Homo sapiens: one gene and its partners. The protein of the gene in region 1 interacts with the protein of each later gene in a biochemical or structural test. Each region holds a gene or a part of one and is shown in the gene's direction. Other genes may lie near its edges.

Region 1 (3,500 bases):
AAATGTTAAAACTGGCTGGGCGTGGTGGCTCACGCCTGTAATCCTAGCACTTTGGGAGGCTGAGGTGGGAGGATCACTTGAGGTCAGGAATTCAAGACCAGCCTGGCCGACATGGCAAAACCCTGGCTCGAATAAAAATACACAAATTAGCCCAGCATGGTGTGTGCCTGTAGTCCCACCTCACCTACTCAGGAGGCTGAGGCATGAGAATCTCTTTTTTTTTTTTTTGAGATGGAGTCTTGCTGTGTCACCCAGGCCGGAGTGCAGTGGCACGATCTCAGCTCACCGCAAGCTCCGCCTCCCGGGTTCACGCCATTCTCCTGCCTCAGCCTCCCATAGCTGGGATTACAGGCGCCCGCCACCATGCCTGGCTAATTTTTTGTATTTTTAGTAGAGACGGGGTTTCACCGTGTTAGCCAGGATGGTCTCAATCTCCCGACCCTACGATCCGCCCGCCTTGGCCTCCCGAAGTGCTGGGATTACAGGCGTGAGCCACCGCGCCCGGCCGAGAATCTCTTGAACCTGGGAGGTGGAGGTTGCAATGAGCCAAGATCATGCCATTGCACTCCAGCCTGGGTTGAGACTGTCAAAACAAAAACAAACAAAAAAGGTGTTAAAACTTTGTTTTTGATGTCTGATATATAATAATATGGTCGTCAAGATTTCATGTTTCTTGAGCATTACTTTGTGAAAATGAGTTTTTTTAATATATGTTAGATTTAAACTGAATAATTTTCTATCATTTTATTTTACTCTTACACATAGTGAAAAACAAAATAAAATATCGAGCTGAAGCCTGCATTAAAATGCAAAAAACTATTCGAATGTGGCTTTGCAAGAGGAGACACAAACCTCGGTAAGATGAATAGTTCCTAAAAAGAACTCTACAAAACCTAGTTACTGTAATACAAAATGACAATAAAGTCATAATAAAAAGCAGTTTGGATACTCAGGTTTTCTCATGTTCTTTGTAAAATGATGTATTAGTCTTTTATTTGTAATATTTATTTGAAGTTAGTTAATTCATTTATTACCTTATTACTTGCCTCATTCTATAAAAGGATTTGAAGTGGCATACAAAAATGTGTAAAGACTATAAAACAAGAAGTAAGTAGTTGAGAGAAGCTCTTTTATTCTGATTATTTTAGTTATTTGAGTTTCTTGATAATGTCAAGGTGACATTTTTTAAAAAACATCTCACTAATATGTTTACATAATTTTCAAGATTATCTGTAGGAATTACATTGTCCCATTATAAATTAGTGTATTTCTTATTTGAATCTTTCATTTTTAATTTACACTTTTAAAAATTGGAAGTCTGAATATCTCTATTGATCCATCACACCTTTTCAAAGAGACTAGATTAATTTCCTCTGTGATTTGAATTCTCAAAGTTGTAGAAGGCTTTAATCCCATTGACAGGCATCAGTGTCATTCACACTCATATTTGATTTTTTTTAGCCTTCAACAAGAGATCTGAAAAAGAGAATAGTAGATAATATTGAAAACAGAAGTGAAATACCCTGTTTAGCATTTTATAAATGAAAAATCTGCCAAAAGTACTAAAGGATGAAATTAAGCTCTAATGAAGTATTATTTTTACAGCATTGATGGTCTGGTTAAGGTGGGCACACTGAAAAAACGACTTGATAAATTTAATGAGGTAGTCAGTGTGTTGAAAGATGGAAAACCCGAGATGAATAAACAGATCAAGAATCTGGAAATTTCTATTGATACTTTGATGGCCAAAATTAAGGTATGTAATTTCAACCCGAATGACTTTGACTTTTTATGTAATTTAATATATTTTGTTATTGGTATTGAAATTGTATAGAAAACGTCCTTAGTTTTTCAAAATTACAAAATGTGTTGAGACTCAATGATGGCAAGTACATGCTCATCATTATTACCTCTACTCTTTATGTTTGAAAAATTTCATAGCAAAAAGTTAAAGAAGACAATTTTTATGCCATTTCTTCTGTTGCTAAGAAAGATATCCCTCGCAACTTAATACCTAGGTGATGGGATGATCTGTGCATCAAACCCACCATGGCACACGTTTACCTGTGTAACAAACCTGCACATCCTGCACGTGCATCCCTGAAATTAAAATAAAAGTTGGAGGCCATACATGGTGGCTCATGCCTGTAATCCCAGCACTTTGGGATGCTGAGGCGGACGGATCATGAGGTCAGGAGATCGAGACCATCATGGCCAACATGGTGAAACCCTGTCTCTACTAAAAATACAAAACTAGCTGGGTGTGGTGGCGTGCACCTGTAATTCCAGCTGCTTGGGAGGCTGAGGCAGGAGAATCGCTTGAACCTGGGAGGCGGAGATTGCAGTGAGCCAAGATTGTGCCACTGCACTCCAGCCTGGTGACAGAGTGAGACTCCATCTCAAAAAAAAAAAAAAATGAAAAAAGAAAACTAAAGTTGGAGCAAAAAGAAAATGGCCGGGCACGGTGGGTCACGCCTGTAATCCCAGCACTTTGGGAGGCCGAGGCAGGCGGATCACAAGGTCAGGAGATTGAGACCATCCTGGCTAACATGGTGAAACCTTGTCTCTACTAAAAATACAAAAAAAAAAAATTAGCCAGGCGTGATGGGGGGCACCTGTAGCCCCAGCTACTTGGGAGGCTGAGGCAGGAGAATGGAGTGAACCGGGGGGGCGGAGCTTGCAGTGAGCCGAGATCGCGCCACTGCACTCCAGCCTGGGTGACAGAGCAAGACTCCGTCTCAAAAAAAATAAATAAATAAAAATAAAAGTGGTGGGGCATGGTGGCTCCTGCCTGTAATCCCAGCACTTTGGGAGGCCGAGGTGGGCGGATTATTTGAGGTCAGGAGGTTGAGACCAGCCCAGCCAACATAGTGAATCGCCGTCTCTACTGAAAATACCAAAGTTAGCCAGGTGTGATCGCACGCGCCTGTAGTTCCAGCTACTTGAGGCAGGAGAATTGCTTGAACCCAGGAGGCAGAGGTTGCAGTGAGCCAAGATTGTGCCACTGCACTCCTGCCTCAGCGACAGAGTGAGACTACGTCTAAAAATAAATAAATAAATGATAAAAGTAATATAATACTATAAAAAATTTGGAGGCCAGATGTGATGGCTCACACCTGTAATCCCAGCACTTTGGGAGGCCCAGGCGCAGGGATCACCTGAGCTCAGGAGTTAGAGACCAACCTGATCAACATGGCCAAAACCTGTCTCCACCAAAAATACAAAAAATTATTTGGGCATGGTGGTATGAGCCTGAGGTCCCAAGGAAGCTGAGGTTAGAGGATTGCTTGAGCCTAGGAGATGGAGGTTGCAGTGAACAGAGATTGCACCACTGCACTCCAGCCTGGGTGACAGTGAGACCCCTGGCTAAAAAAAAAAAAAAATTGGAGAAACCACCAAAAACCTCTTAATACCTCCACATTAACAAATTCAGTTAGTTACTGTTATTTTTACAGTATAATTTTACTTGTTTTTACTTTACCTTACATTCTCTTTTATGC
Region 2 (3,523 bases), on another chromosome or scaffold:
CAGGAGATGCCATTGCTGTGTGTCCCATGGTGGCGACTGGGCTCATTGCTGCCTTGTGGTGTATTTTAGCTTGTTCCTCTATCTGGTGAATTTTCCTGCGGAAAATTCTGCAGAAAAATCTGCGGAACCATTTTTTGCTGGAACGCTTGACAGCTCTTGCATACACTTGAAAACACGTCACATTCTAGGAAACGTGGTGATTGGTGCTCCTGTGAGCTGCTGGCTGGCATCTGTCAGTGGTGGAGAGCTCTGGGGGGTGAGGGGGCACCTGGTTGAGCCTTGTCTCCTTTGGCCTCCCAGCCTCTAGGCCAGGAGGATGGCACCGAGTGTGCCTGCAGTGGCCTCTTGCTGAATGGACACTTGGGTGGGTGGCTTGTGCATTTTTGTCAGGGGCTGCTCAGCACTCACACCAGTCCTTGGGAAGGCCTGGGTTTGGGGGCACCTCTGGGGAAGGTTCCTGGAGCTTCCTTTGCTCTGTGAGAAACCTAAGGAGCCTCAGAGCTGCAGATGAGGAAACTGAGGCTCACATGGTGCCACCTCTTGCCCGAGAGGGTCAGAGCAGGAGGAGAGCCCAGGTCTGGGGATAGATCTTGTGTCTCCAGAGGTGCCTTGTCTCACCATCTCTGCTGGGCTGGGAAGAGGTTGAGGGAGCAGAGACCCTGGCCCTGAGCTGCAGAATTCTCGAGTGTCAGAGGCACCCCGAGCTCCTCCTTTGGAAGACAGGAGCTGGGGCATGGCCACCACCCCAGCAGGTGTGCCAGGTGGGCAGGACACTCAGCCGGGGGCGTCCCCTTCGTTTCCCCAGAGGATGCGGCTGTGAAGGGGCGGCTGGTGGAATGTCTGGAGACTGTGCTCAACAAGGCCCAGGAGCCCCCCAAATCCAAGAAGGTGCAGCATTCCAACGCCAAGAACGCCATCCTCTTCGAGACCATCAGCCTCATCATCCACTATGACAGGTGCCCGCCTGGGCCTATCAGGGCCTGATGCCTGGGGCCAGGAAAGAGGGGCATGGAGGCCCGGACTCCTGAGTCCTAGGCAGAGGGCAGGGAATCTTGACTTTTAGGTAGGGTAGGAGGAGGATGGGGCTGTGAAGTGTCACCTGTGAGGTTGGTGCTGGGGCCCTTCCTGGGGGCAGAATTGCTAGGTATCTTTCTCTGGGCTCAAAGGCCCAGTTGTCTGGGTCACTGGAGGTGCAGTACTGCGATGCAAGGCCGGCAAGGTTAAGACCTGGATCCTTGGGGGCTGTGAGATGGGTCAGCTGGGGCCCGAGTCCTCCACCTTCTCCTGTCAGTTTCTCTCACCATCCCTCTCTTGTGGCCCCTGCTGGCAGTGAGCCCAACCTCCTGGTTCGGGCCTGCAACCAGCTGGGCCAGTTCCTGCAGCACCGGGAGACCAACCTGCGCTACCTGGCCCTGGAGAGCATGTGCACGCTGGCCAGCTCCGAGTTCTCCCATGAAGCCGTCAAGACGCACATTGACACCGTCATCAATGCCCTCAAGGTGTGAGCCCTTGGAGCCCACCCCGGGCCTGCCACCCCCCTCAGAAAGACCAGAGGCTCAGAGGCCCTTGGGTGGCCAACCCTGTGCCAACAGGGAGTCTAAAACACACCTGGGCTCTGCTCTCCGCCCTCAGACGGAGCGGGACGTCAGCGTGCGGCAGCGGGCGGCTGACCTCCTCTACGCCATGTGTGACCGGAGCAATGCCAAGCAGATCGTGTCGGAGATGCTGCGGTACCTGGAGACGGCAGACTACGCCATCCGCGAGGAGATCGTGAGTGCTGTGGGGTGCGGGCTGGACTCTTGGGTCTGAGGCAGGAGGTGGCTGGGGGCCTGGATTCCTAAGTCTAAGGGAGGAGGGGCTGGGGCCTGGACTCCTGGGTCTCCAGATGGGGGCAGTGGTGAGCCCAGATCCAGGTGAGTGAAAGCCCGACATGGCCTGCGGCACACTCTCTCTCACACGCCCCGGCGGCAGGTCCTGAAGGTGGCCATCCTGGCCGAGAAGTACGCCGTGGACTACAGCTGGTACGTGGACACCATCCTCAACCTCATCCGCATTGCGGGCGACTACGTGAGTGAGGAGGTGTGGTACCGTGTGCTACAGATCGTCACCAACCGTGATGACGTCCAGGGCTATGCCGCCAAGACCGTCTTTGAGGTCAGCATCCCTGACCCTGACCCTATGACCCCACGACAGGACCTAGAGGCAGAGCAAGGATGGCCGGGGCCGTGGCGCCTGCCAGCCCGCAGCCACCCTCCTTCTCCTGCACTGCCGTGACCTCAAAATGGGGCCTCTGCCTCTCTGGGCCAACCCAGGGGACCCAGGGCTATGGTCTCATGGGCCTGATGTGAGGAGTCCCCAGGGCATGGGCATGGGGCACCCAGTGTGCAGTCCTGGCCCCCGGATCTCGGTAGTTTCCCTCTGCCCCAGGAAAGGGGCCCCACACAGTCCTGTTTTTTGTTTGTTTGTTTGTTTGTTTCTGGAGACGGAGTCTCACTCTGTTGCCCAGGCTGGAGTGGGGAGTGAGTGCCGTGGTGCGATCTCGGCTCACTGCAACCTCGGCCTCCCAGCGTCAAGCCATTCTCCTGCCTCAGCCTCCCCAGTAGCTGGTACTACAGGCACGCGCCACCACACCCAGCTAATTTGTTTGTATTTTTAGTAGAGACGGGGTTTCACCATGTTACCCAGGCTGGTTTGAAACTCCTGAGCTCAGGCAATCTGCCCGCCTCGGCCTCCCAAAGTACCAGGATTACAGGCATGAGCCACTGCTTCCGGCCCACAGCCCTGTTTTACTTCCTGTGTGAGCTTGGGCCCGTCACTCAACCTTTCTGTGACTCAGTTTCCCACCTATAACCCCACCTGCAGCAGAGCTTTCAGTGTTCCACCAGTCAGTAGGTGGCTGCACCCACCGATCCCGGAGAGGGCGCTCATTGTTGTCCTCTCCACGCCCTTCCCCACCCCACTCAGGCGCTCCAGGCCCCTGCCTGTCACGAGAACATGGTGAAGGTTGGCGGCTACATCCTTGGGGAGTTTGGGAACCTGATTGCTGGGGACCCCCGCTCCAGGTGAGGGAGCCTCAGCCTGCAGGGGAGAACACACATGCTTCTGAGGGGTCCAGGGCTTGGGGGATCCCCAGGGGTCTCAGGGCAGGCAGTGATGGGCTCCCATCCTCTCGGCCTCCACCCCAATCCACCTAGCAGGGTAAGAAAGGAGCTTAGTCCCAGGATCGTGGACAGAGTGTGACTGCGGCCCCTGTCTGGTGCCTGGGGAGGGCCACTCCCCTCCAGCAGCTTGGGGTCCTGGGACGGGTCCATCCTAGGGAGGGGCACCTCTCGAGGGGGTTTCTGGGAGAGGGCAGTGGAACCTGGCCCCGCTGACACCCACTCCTGCACACAGCCCCCCAGTGCAGTTCTCCCTGCTCCACTCCAAGTTCCATCTGTGCAGCGTGGCCACGCGGGCGCTGCTGCTGTCCACCTACATCAAGTTCATCAACCTCTTCCCCGAGACCAAGGCCACCATCCAGGGC
Region 3 (3,523 bases), on another chromosome or scaffold:
GACAATTTATCCCTTGTAACAGAGCATCTCAACACAGGTGCAAATAGGTTGGTAATCTTGGTGTGGGCAAATGTGAAATTTATTCTGATTGCTTTTATTTTCTCATTTATTCCCACCTCCCATCCAGTGCAGGAATTCCCTGTGCACTGTTGCTGGTAGGTGGTCATCTACATGCTCATGTCATCCTTGAATATCTCTGATTATTGGAAATTGCTTCAGTGCACCAAACTGAAACTACCTTCTGTAGTTTCTATCCTTTGATCCCAGCTTTGCCTCTGACTCCACATACAACATACTCTTCCCTCCCTTAGAACGGCCTTGCAGATATTTGAAGATGATAATTGCTGGGATATGTTGGAAATAAGACAGAATGATCCTAGACATAGGCATATTTTTTTATTTTTTTATTTTTATTTTATTTTTTTTTTTGAGATGGAGTCTCACTCTGTCACCTAGGCTGGAGTGCAATGGTGTGATCTCAGCTCACCGCAACCTCCACCTCCCAGGTTCAAGCGATTCTCCTGCCTCAGCCTCCTGAGTAGCTGGGATTACAGGCACCTGCCACCATGCCCAGCTAAGTTTTGTATTTTTAGTAGAGACCACATTTCGCCATATTGGTCAGGCTGTTCTCGATGGTCTCGAACTCCTGACCTCAGGTGATCCACCCACCTCAGCCTCCCAAAGTGCTGGGATTACAGGAGTGAGCCACCACGCCCGGCCCTAGACATATCTTTTTATGTTTCCGGACCCTATCTGTGAAGTGAAGATGATAAGTCTTGCCCTATTACCCAGAGTTAATTGTGGCCATTAAATTAGACAGTGCTTATGTAAGTACTCTTTGAATTAAGTGCTGAGTGCTTGTAAAGATTTAGTCTTACTGTTTTTCTTTACCTTTCCCAGGAGACGCTTCATTTAGGGGACTAGGGTGGCAACAGTTTTCACTTACATTTAATATTCCTTTCCTGCTAGAAGAGATCAGTTCTTGGATGACTGAGGTGAAGGCACCAGGAATAATTTCTGCCAGCAGCTGGGCAGATGTTTAACTCAACAGGCTAAATGGATAATAAACCCTTCAGATGTGTAAGCAAGAATAATAATAAAGCCAGGCACAGTGACTCACGCCTGTAATCCCAGCACTTTGGGAGGTTGAGGCAGGAGGATCACTTGAGTCTAGGAGTTTGAGACCAGCCAGGCCAACATGGTAAAACCCCGTCTCTACTGAAAATACGAAAAGCAGTCGGGTGTAGTGGCTGGTGCCTGTAATCCCAGCTACTTGGGAGGCTGAGTCAGGAGAATTGCTTGAACCTGGGAGGTGGAGGTTGCAGTGAGCCAAGATCGTGCCACTGCACTCCAGCCTGGGCGACAGAGCAAGACTCCATCTCAAAAAAAAAAAAAAAAAAAAAGAAGAAGAAGAATAAACCCTTAGGTCTGTAACATATTTCATAAGTTTACAAAGTACTTTCAAATACACTATCTTATTTTATTTTTACAGACATGTGAGATGGGCATTATCATCATCCCTACTTTACAGACAGGGAAGTTGTACATAGTCCCATGGCCTTTAAATGTTCAACCTGATCCTTAGGTCATACTCTTTCCAGTATATATACACAGCTGCTACTTTGCATCCTAGAGCATAAAGCAGCTGACCATATTTCTAGAACTTGTATATGGGGAACAAGAGAGAGCCTCATTTGGAGCTCAAGGTGATTCACCATTTTTATTGCCAGGCCTTGTACCTCATTGCCACCAATGGGACCCCAGAACTTCAGAACCCAGAGAAGCTGTCAGCTATCTTCCGGGACTTTCTGAACCGCTGTCTCGAGATGGATGTGGAGAAGAGAGGTTCAGCTAAAGAGCTGCTACAGGTAACTGTCCTTATGCAGGGAAGCACCTAATTCAGGGAATCACTAAACCAGGCCTTTTTTACTTCATGTTTGTAAGGTACTGGATATTATAGAACTAGGCTTCTCTTCTACCACTTCCTACACTCACTCTGTTCCTACTGCCCTTTTATCCCTGGGCCTTTGCTCATTTATTTTCTTAGCCTTTCTCAGCCTGTTAAAACTCTACACGTTCTCCTAGGCTCAGTTTACAATCTATTTTCTGAGCACCTATTGAGCTTTGCTTGTAGCTTTTTTGCTTGCTTCCTTCCTTCCTTTCCTTTCTTCTTCCTTTCCCTTTCCTTCCCTTCCTTTCCCTTCCCTTCCCTTCCCTTCCCTTCCCTTCCTTTCCCTTCCCTTCCCTTTCCCCCCCCTCTTCCCTCTCCCCCTTCCTCTCACGCCCCACAGGGTCTCACTCTGTCACCCAGGCAGGAGTGTGCAATGGCGTGATTTTGTCTCACTGCAGTCTTCCTCTCCTGGGTTCACTCAAGTGATCTTCCCACCTCAGCCTCCCAGGTAGCTCAGACTACAGGTGCACGCCACCATACCTGGCTAGTTTTTTAAAAACTTTTTTGTAGAGACGGGGTTTTGCTATGTTGGCCGTGCATGGTCTCAAATTCCTGGGTTCAAGCGATCTGCGCACTTCGCTTTCCCAAAGTGCTGGGACTACAGGCATGGGCCACCATGACCAGCCTGCTTGTATCTTTCATTAGCACTTCCTTTGTTCTGTTTGAATTAGTCTGGCAGAGTTTGTTTGAGTCTTGTTGAGAAACGGGTCTCTGACACCCAAATCTTACACAACTTATATTTTGCTGGGATTAGCTCAAAGGATACATTTTTAGCAAAGGAACATAAGTTTATTTTATTTTATTTATGTTTTATTTTTCTTTCTTTTTTTTTAATTCTTTTTTTTTTACATTTTATTATTATTATACTTTTAAGTTTTAGGGTACATGTGCACAACGTGCAGGTTTGTTACATATGTATACATGTACCATGTTGGTGTGCTGTACCCATTAACTCGTCATTTAGCATTAGGTATATCTCTTAATGCTATCCCTCCACCCTCCCCTGACCCCACAACAGTCCCGGGTGTGTGATGTTCCCCTTCCTGTGTCCATGTGTTCTCATTGTTCATTTCCTACCTATGAGTGAGAACATGCAGTGTTTGGTTTTTTGTCCTTGCAATAGTTTGCTGAGAATGATGGTTTCCAGTTTCATCCATGTCCCTACAAAGGACATGAACTCATCATTTTTTATGGCTGCATAGTATTCCATGGTGTATATGTGCCACATTTTCTTAATCCAGTCTATCGTTGTTGGACATTTAGGTTGGTTCCAAGTCTTTGCTGTTGTGAATAGTGCCACTATAAACATACGTGTGCATGTGTCTTTACAGCAGCATGATTTATAATCCTTTGGGTATATACCCAGTAATGGGATGGCTGGGTCAAATGGTATTTCTAGTTCTAGATCCCTGAGGAATTGCCACACTGACTTCCACAATGGTTGAACTAGTTTACACTCCCACCAACAGTGTAAAAGTGTTCGTATTTCTCCACATCCTCTCCAGCACGTGTTGTTTCCTGACTTTTTAATGATCGCCATTCTAACTGGTGTGAGATGGTATCTCATTGTGG
Region 4 (3,523 bases), on another chromosome or scaffold:
CGAGATTGATGGGCAGTAGCCTCAGGTTGCCCATGGTGATGTCTGGTTTTGGGAGGGAGAGGTCAAGTGGCCCACAGCAGCATGAGATGAAGGCAGCGCAAGGCCTTCCCTCACCACTGACGGGAGGCAGAACCCAGGCCATCTCCACACACAGGGCGGGCCCTTTGATCCAGAGATTCCACTTCCAGAATTTTCCCAAAGGAAATAATTGGACAAGGCCACCCAGATTCTTTGCAGGGTTATTTATAATGGCAGACAATTTGGAGACAACCTAAGTGTCCAGCATCAGGGAACTGAATAGATAGATTAGAAAACCAGGCTGTTGTTAAAAAGGGCAATCAGGGCCGGGTGCAGTGGCTGACGCCTGTAATCCCAGCACTTTGGGAGGCTGAGGTGGGTGGATCACGTGAGGTCAGAGTTCAAGACCAGCCTGGCCAACATAGTGAAACCCCGTCTTTACTAAAAATACAGAAAATTAGCCAGTCATTGTGGCAGGTGCCTGTAATTCCAGCTACTCGGGAGGCTAAGGCAGGAGAATCACTTGAACCCAGAAGGTGGAGGTTGCAGTGAGCTGAGATTGTGCCATTGCTCTCCAGCCTGGGAGATGAGAGTGAAACTCTGTCTGAAAAAAAAAAAAAAAAAAAAAAAAGGGCAATCAGATCTTCCTGTATTGACGTGAAAAGATGTCCACAATATATTAAGTGGAAAAAGCAGCTTGCAGAATAATATACACAGTATGGTCCTTTTTTTTTTTTTTTTTTTCAATTTTAAAAATATGTTTGGGCTGGGCGTGGTGGCTCATGCCTGTAACCCTAGCACTTTGGGAGGCCAAGGCAGGTGGATCATGAGGTTGGAAGATTGAGACCATCCTGGCTAACACGGTGAAACCGCACCTCTACTAAAAATACAAAATTAGCTGGGTGTGGTGGCACAAGCCTATAATCCTAACTACTTGGGAGGCTGAGGCAGGAGAATAGCTTGAATCCGGGAGTGGGAGGTTGCGGTGAGCCGAGATCACGCCACTGCACTCCAGCCTGGGCAACAAGAGCAAAACTCTATCTCAAAAAAATAAAACTAAAGGTTTGCACTACATATCTGAAAGGATGTGTACCAGCTGTTAACAATGGTTAGCCCCAAGGGTGGGGTGGGATGGGGATAAGAAAGGGGCATTCACTTTCACTGGGTTGTTTACAAATTCTTTAAGTGTTTTTATCCTGCAAAAAACGAGGAAAACCCAGCCGGGCACGGCGGCTTACGCCTGTAATCCCAGATTTTGGGAGGCCAAAGTGAGAAGATCATGTGAATCCAGGAGTTTGAGACCAAACTGGGCAACATAGTAAGACCCCATTTCTGCAAAAAATGAAAAATTAGCTGGGGCAATAGTGTGTGCCTATAGTCCCAGCTACTCAGTAGTCTTAGGTGGGAGGATTACAGCTTGAGCTGGGGAGGTCCAGGCTGCAGTGACTATGATTACACTACTACACTTAGCCTGGGTGAGTCTTTTTTTTTTTTTTTTCCTGAGATGGAGTTTTGCTCTTATTGCCCAGGCTGGAGTGCAATGGCACGATCTCGGCTCCCTGCAGCCTCCGCCTCCTGAGTTCAAGTGATTCTCCTGCCTCAGCCTCCTGAGTAGCTGGGATTACAGGCACCCGCCACCACGCCTAGCTAATCTTTTGTATTTTTAGTAGAGATGGTGTTTCATCATGTTGGCCAGGCTGGTCTCGAACTCCTGACCTTCAAGTGATCCACCCACCTCGGCCTCCCAAAGTGCTGGGATTACAGGCACGAGCCACCGTGCCCGGCATGACAGTCTTAAAAAAAAAAAAAAGAGGAAAACCCTAGTAAGTGTATTTCTAGTTAAGACTGCTTCTGTCCGCACCCACCTAACTCTCTTCCCCTTGCATACACACAAATCCATTTTAGTACTCTGAGGGAACTCAGACCACAGAGGCATGCAATAGTCCTCACCTCGGCCCCCCAGCCAGATGCCTGGTGGGGCTAAACCTCCCCTCAGAGCCTTCATTCCCACTCAGACTGGGCCAAAGAGCCTTGATCCTGGGGTCTTTGGCTGTGGGATCTTCTGAGCCCCGCCCTGGAGGAGCTGGCTTCTTGAATCCTCTGGGGGAGTAAACAATACTTATTTTCTTATGTAAGAGGGATGGGCTGGTACCTTATGCAGGGAGACTGGCCAAGTCCTGTTTCTGGAAAATTACTCAACTATCAGCAAGCTGGAAAAGTCCATCTCTAGGACTTCAGCAGCTTCATGTCTAGTTGGGCCCGAGGGAGTCAAAGAATGAGGATTTGCTTCTGTGCAGCTTGGTAGATCATTAAGACTTAGGCTGCCCAGGCTCTCTGGCCACATTCAGAAGGACTTTGCTTGACCCCACAGTTCTGTGTCCTAAAGTGCACCTGGAGCTGGAGATATGCTTGGAACCACAGAAGTATGTAGAACATGGCCGGGCACAGTGGCTCACGCCTGTAATCCCAGCAGTGGGAGGCTGAGGTGGGTAGATCATTTGAGGTCAGGAGTTCAAGACCAGCCTGGCCAACATGGAGAAACCCTGTCTCTACTAAAAATACAAAAATTGGCTAGGCAGGGTAGTGGTTGCCTGTAATCCCAGCTACTCAGGAGGCTGAGGCAGGAGAACTGCTTGAACCCAGAGGCAGAGGTTGCAGTGAGCTGAGATCGCACACTGCACTCCAGCCTGGACGACAGAGCGAGACTTTGTCTCAAAAAAGAAAGTACCTAGAACACTCTGAGCTGGATCATTTACCTTTCCTAAAGATTAGCATCACGAAGCTCAGAGAGGTGAAGTGGTGAATGCAAAGTCACCCAGGAAATCAGCCACTTCTGGAGTGCACCCCATTTGACTTGGCCCCCCGCCTTCTCCCTCCCGACCTGTCAGCCGTGGGTGAGCTGTGGGTGAATCTGAGGAGCCCGGGGCCTCCTTTCCAATCTGAGTGAGAACTCTTATTCTCACTGTTACTAAGAATCACAGCAGGTGTGTTTATTTGTAAATCATATCACATCAGTGCCATCCGAGAATCCTTACAGGCAGGGCAGGGTCACAGATGAGCTGAATCACTCAGAAGCTTAGTGGCAAAGCCCCAGCTTGCCTACATCTCCTGGGCTCCGACCCGGTGTGCTTTGCATTACGACTCTGTTGCTGGAACTGGCTGGCCACAGCGCCTGGGTCACAGGTGGAAAGCCCCAGCTCTTTAGGATTGAGCATAGCAGGTCTGGCCTGCACCTGCAGGGGGAGGAGAAACCTTGGCCTGTGCACACCCAACACTTTCAAGGATCCCAGACAGAGCTTTTGTGCTTCCTTTCTTCCTCTTTTCTGCAGCCCGTGCACCACCAGCGGGTCCAGCTACAAACCCAGTTGCCAATACAGCCTAAGGACGAGCCTGCCCACAACTATTCCAGTTCCATTTGGCACAGCCAGGGGCAGGGACAGAAGGGCCCTGCAGGACTCCGCCTCCCCACCTCTGCACAGATCCTCTCTCCTTTCCCCTAATACTC
Region 5 (3,523 bases), on another chromosome or scaffold:
ATGCACTTGGTTTCAAGCTACCCAGAAAGCTGAGGCAGGAGGATCACTTGAGCCCAGGAGGTCAATGTTGCAGTGAGCTATGATCGCAACACTGCACTCTCCAACCTTGACAACAGAGCAAGACTCCTACTTTCTGAAAATATTAGAAGTCAAGATCTGAGCTTTAGTGTATTTGCTTCTAAGATCTTTCAGTGGTCAGGGCTTAGTTACATTTATGTACATACATATGCTCATTTATGTACATACATGTGCATATACGCATGGAAAAATAAACACACAAGAACAGCTAGTAAAACACTGAAAACTGTAAAAGTGGACTAGTCCTACCAGATGTTGAACTGTGTATTACAAAGTCTATATAATTAAAACAGTATATTACTGGTACATGAATCAAAGTCCAAAACTAGATCCAATATCAGTAAGATTATCAATAAACATAGTTTAAAAGATAGGAAATACCCTCTAAAATGCTATAAAAAGTCCTTTACTTTTTACCTTGAAATTAATCTATCATATCTTCTTTAGGTTTGCAATGAGAATTCCCTCTTCAAAAGTCTTTCTCGCTACCTGGTACGTCGAAAGGATCCAGAATTGTGGGGCAGCGTGCTGCTGGAAAGCAATCCTTACAGGAGACCCCTAATTGACCAGGTAACATTGGCAAATGTGTTTATGGCTGTCAGTAAAAATTATACATTTTTAACTATGAATACAATCCTTTCCCTCATCATGTACTCAAATGGATCATATATAACTATGAGAGAAAGCAATACAAAGTAGAAGAAAATTAAAATTTATATATATTCAATTTACATTCATTTGTATATAATGAATGTAAATTGATTATATACATTATATACAAATGAATGTACATTTATATAAGTATAAATATGTATATAACATACATTAAGAAAAATAAGCCATGTGCGGTGGCTCACGCCTGTAATTCCAGCACTTTGGGAGGCCGAGGTGGGTGGATCACCTGAAGTCAGGAGTTCGAGACCAGCCTGGCCAACGTAGTAAAACCCCATCTCTACTAAAAATACAAAAATTAGCCAGGTGCATGTAATCCCAGCTACTCGGCAGGAAAATCGCTTGAACCCGGGAGGTGGAGGTTGCAGTAAGCCGAGATCACGCCATTGCACTCCAGCCTGGGTGATAAGAGCAAGACTGTCTCAAAAAAACAAAAAGAAAAAAGAAAAAGAAAATACATCCCAAAAGACCTGACTTAATTATATAAAACTCTCTTGGTTCATCATAGTTTAAAAGGAAAATAACAAACTAAACATTAAAGATTGCTATTATTAACACTTAAGTGGCTAAATTGATTGGAAACTTCAAGATAATAAGTCAGAAAAATATAAGGATAAGAGAAAATACAAAAGACCAAGTGCATCAGTGTTATATCTTACTAATAAGAAGTATAGAACTGCAAATGAGATGGGGTTTTATACCTAAATAAAATAGACAACATATTTTAAAAGTTCTAAAAATAGAAGAGTTGTTATAATGAGTCTTAAATTCTCCTGAGATAAGTATAAATAAAATATTTTGGAAACGAATAGGTTGAAGGCTATTAATATTTCATTCCTTTCCTAGGAAGCACTTCTAAGCAACATTCCCAAGTAGTTACAAAGCTTCCTAGGGGAAGGTTGTGGGGGTGGGGGCGATGGTTGGAAATCATTGCAGCATCTAGAAAACCAAGCAAATAGCCAAAACCAGACGAATTACCGATATTTTAATTCCACATCTGTGTAGCTGAATTTTGAATTATGTGTAGCCATTAAAGTGATAATGATGATTGCTAGCCTGGATAATGTTTTAATCAGGGAAAAGATAGAAATTATATAATTAGAGTAATTTTTCAACACAATTATACATATTGTATAGATTTGTGTAGAAAGACCTCTCTATGTAAATTTAAAGGTCTTTTTCCTACTTCATTCTTTTCTGCCTATTTCAAGTTTTCTAATGAGAGGCCAACTTACGCTTTTTTAAAACCAACTTGATTCTCAGTACTTATGTCCCATATATCCTCTGTAGGTTGTACAAACAGCTTTGTCTGAGACTCAGGACCCTGAAGAAGTGTCAGTAACTGTAAAGGCTTTCATGACTGCAGACCTTCCTAATGAACTCATTGAACTGCTGGAGAAAATTGTCCTTGATAACTCTGTATTCAGTGAACACAGGTATGCTTTCAGAGGGATCCATTGGCTATTTATAGTCAGTCTTTAATAAATTATGGCCCATCAGTTTTGGGAAGGAACAAAAAGATCAGAGAAAGTTGCCTGAATTCTCACTCTTCTAATATCCTCCCCCCTACCCTACCTCTTGAGACAAAAACCTCTCCGTTAGTCACAGTGGTTATTTTTTATGTCGGATAAACTTAAAATATTGCATTTAAAATATTCTTTTTTTTCTTAAAGGAATCTGCAAAACCTCCTTATCCTCACTGCAATTAAGGCTGACCGTACACGTGTTATGGAGTATATTAACCGCCTGGATAATTATGATGCCCCAGATATTGCCAATATCGCCATCAGCAATGAGCTGTTTGAAGAAGCATTTGCCATTTTCCGGAAATTTGATGTCAATACTTCAGCAGTTCAGGTAAATCTTCAGATTACCTAAGTTGAATTACTAAACACTGTGCTATGAGGGTGGGCCTAATTGGTTGCTACGGCAATAGAGCAGCAATAAAATACTAACAGCTTAAATGTAATTGCTTTGGGTAGGATTGATTTTACTCTAACCCTAATTTCAAACTTGGATACTTAGGTCTTAATTGAGCATATTGGAAACTTGGATCGGGCATATGAGTTTGCTGAACGTTGCAATGAACCTGCGGTCTGGAGTCAACTTGCAAAAGCCCAGTTGCAGAAAGGAATGGTGAAAGAAGCCATTGATTCTTATATCAAAGCAGATGATCCTTCCTCCTACATGGAAGTTGTTCAGGCTGCCAATACTAGTGGTATGACTTCTTACCTTATGTATTGAAACCTCATAAAATGATTAAGCTAAGCATTAAGATATCTGTCTATTCTGAATTTTAGAAGAGTTGGATACTGCATGGTTTCTTTTAGTGCTCCATCTTAGTCCAGATAAAAAGAGGCTGTATTTTGTGAATTTGTAAGTTCACAAAACTTACAAGTGGGGAAGATGAATCTTCTGTTTTTGAAGTCTCATAAAATCCTGATAGTGCTCTAATCTTAAAACTTTAAGGAAAAAGAATTCATCTATTCATTTGGTCCGTGATAATACAGAAGTGAAATATTGCACGGTTTACATTTGTCATTATCCATGTTTCCTTGAAAAGGAAATGAATGCAATTTTCATTTACTTGGGTGAAAGATAAACTAGGATGTTAGTGTTTGGATATATTTTTTCTTTTTCTATACTTAGGAAACTGGGAAGAACTGGTGAAGTACTTGCAGATGGCCCGTAAGAAGGCTCGAGAGTCCTATGTGGAGACAGAACTGATATTCGCACTGGCTAAAACAAACCGCCTTGCAGAGTTAGAAGAATT

Evidence for each region.
Region 2: the proteins of MYO6 (region 1) and AP2A1 form a complex in vitro, tested with the Homo sapiens proteins (one study listed by BioGRID).
Region 3: of the proteins of MYO6 (region 1) and PAK1, one has a biochemical effect on the other in vitro, tested with the Homo sapiens proteins (one study listed by BioGRID).
Region 4: the proteins of MYO6 (region 1) and CLTB form a complex in vitro, tested with the Homo sapiens proteins (one study listed by BioGRID).
Region 5: the proteins of MYO6 (region 1) and CLTC form a complex in vitro, tested with the Homo sapiens proteins (one study listed by BioGRID).

What each region holds. Positions count from the first base shown.
Region 1 is NC_000006.12:75,885,239-75,888,738, forward strand, and holds part of MYO6 (unconventional myosin-VI), read left to right. Parts: intron 1-765; coding exon 766-856; intron 857-1,605; coding exon 1,606-1,756; intron 1,757-3,500. UniProt on the Homo sapiens protein: Myosins are actin-based motor molecules with ATPase activity. Unconventional myosins serve in intracellular movements. Myosin 6 is a reverse-direction motor protein that moves towards the minus-end of actin filaments.
Region 2 is NC_000019.10:49,797,997-49,801,519, forward strand, and holds part of AP2A1 (AP-2 complex subunit alpha-1), read left to right. Parts: intron 1-805; coding exon 806-956; intron 957-1,330; coding exon 1,331-1,499; intron 1,500-1,608; exon of another isoform or gene 1,609-1,632; coding exon 1,633-1,770; exon of another isoform or gene 1,771-1,971; coding exon 1,972-2,154; intron 2,155-2,964; coding exon 2,965-3,062; intron 3,063-3,393; coding exon 3,394-3,523.
Region 3 is NC_000011.10:77,331,075-77,334,597, reverse strand, and holds part of PAK1 (serine/threonine-protein kinase PAK 1), read left to right. Parts: intron 1-1,730; coding exon 1,731-1,868; intron 1,869-3,523. UniProt on the Homo sapiens protein: Protein kinase involved in intracellular signaling pathways downstream of integrins and receptor-type kinases that plays an important role in cytoskeleton dynamics, in cell adhesion, migration, proliferation, apoptosis, mitosis, and in vesicle-mediated transport processes.
Region 4 is NC_000005.10:176,406,533-176,410,055, reverse strand, and holds part of CLTB (clathrin light chain B), read left to right. Parts: intron 1-3,347; coding exon of another isoform or gene 3,348-3,518; exon of another isoform or gene 3,519-3,523. UniProt on the Homo sapiens protein: Clathrin is the major protein of the polyhedral coat of coated pits and vesicles.
Region 5 is NC_000017.11:59,678,872-59,682,394, forward strand, and holds part of CLTC (clathrin heavy chain 1), read left to right. Parts: intron 1-525; coding exon 526-648; intron 649-2,040; coding exon 2,041-2,186; intron 2,187-2,423; coding exon 2,424-2,607; intron 2,608-2,775; coding exon 2,776-2,968; intron 2,969-3,399; coding exon 3,400-3,523. UniProt on the Homo sapiens protein: Clathrin is the major protein of the polyhedral coat of coated pits and vesicles. Two different adapter protein complexes link the clathrin lattice either to the plasma membrane or to the trans-Golgi network.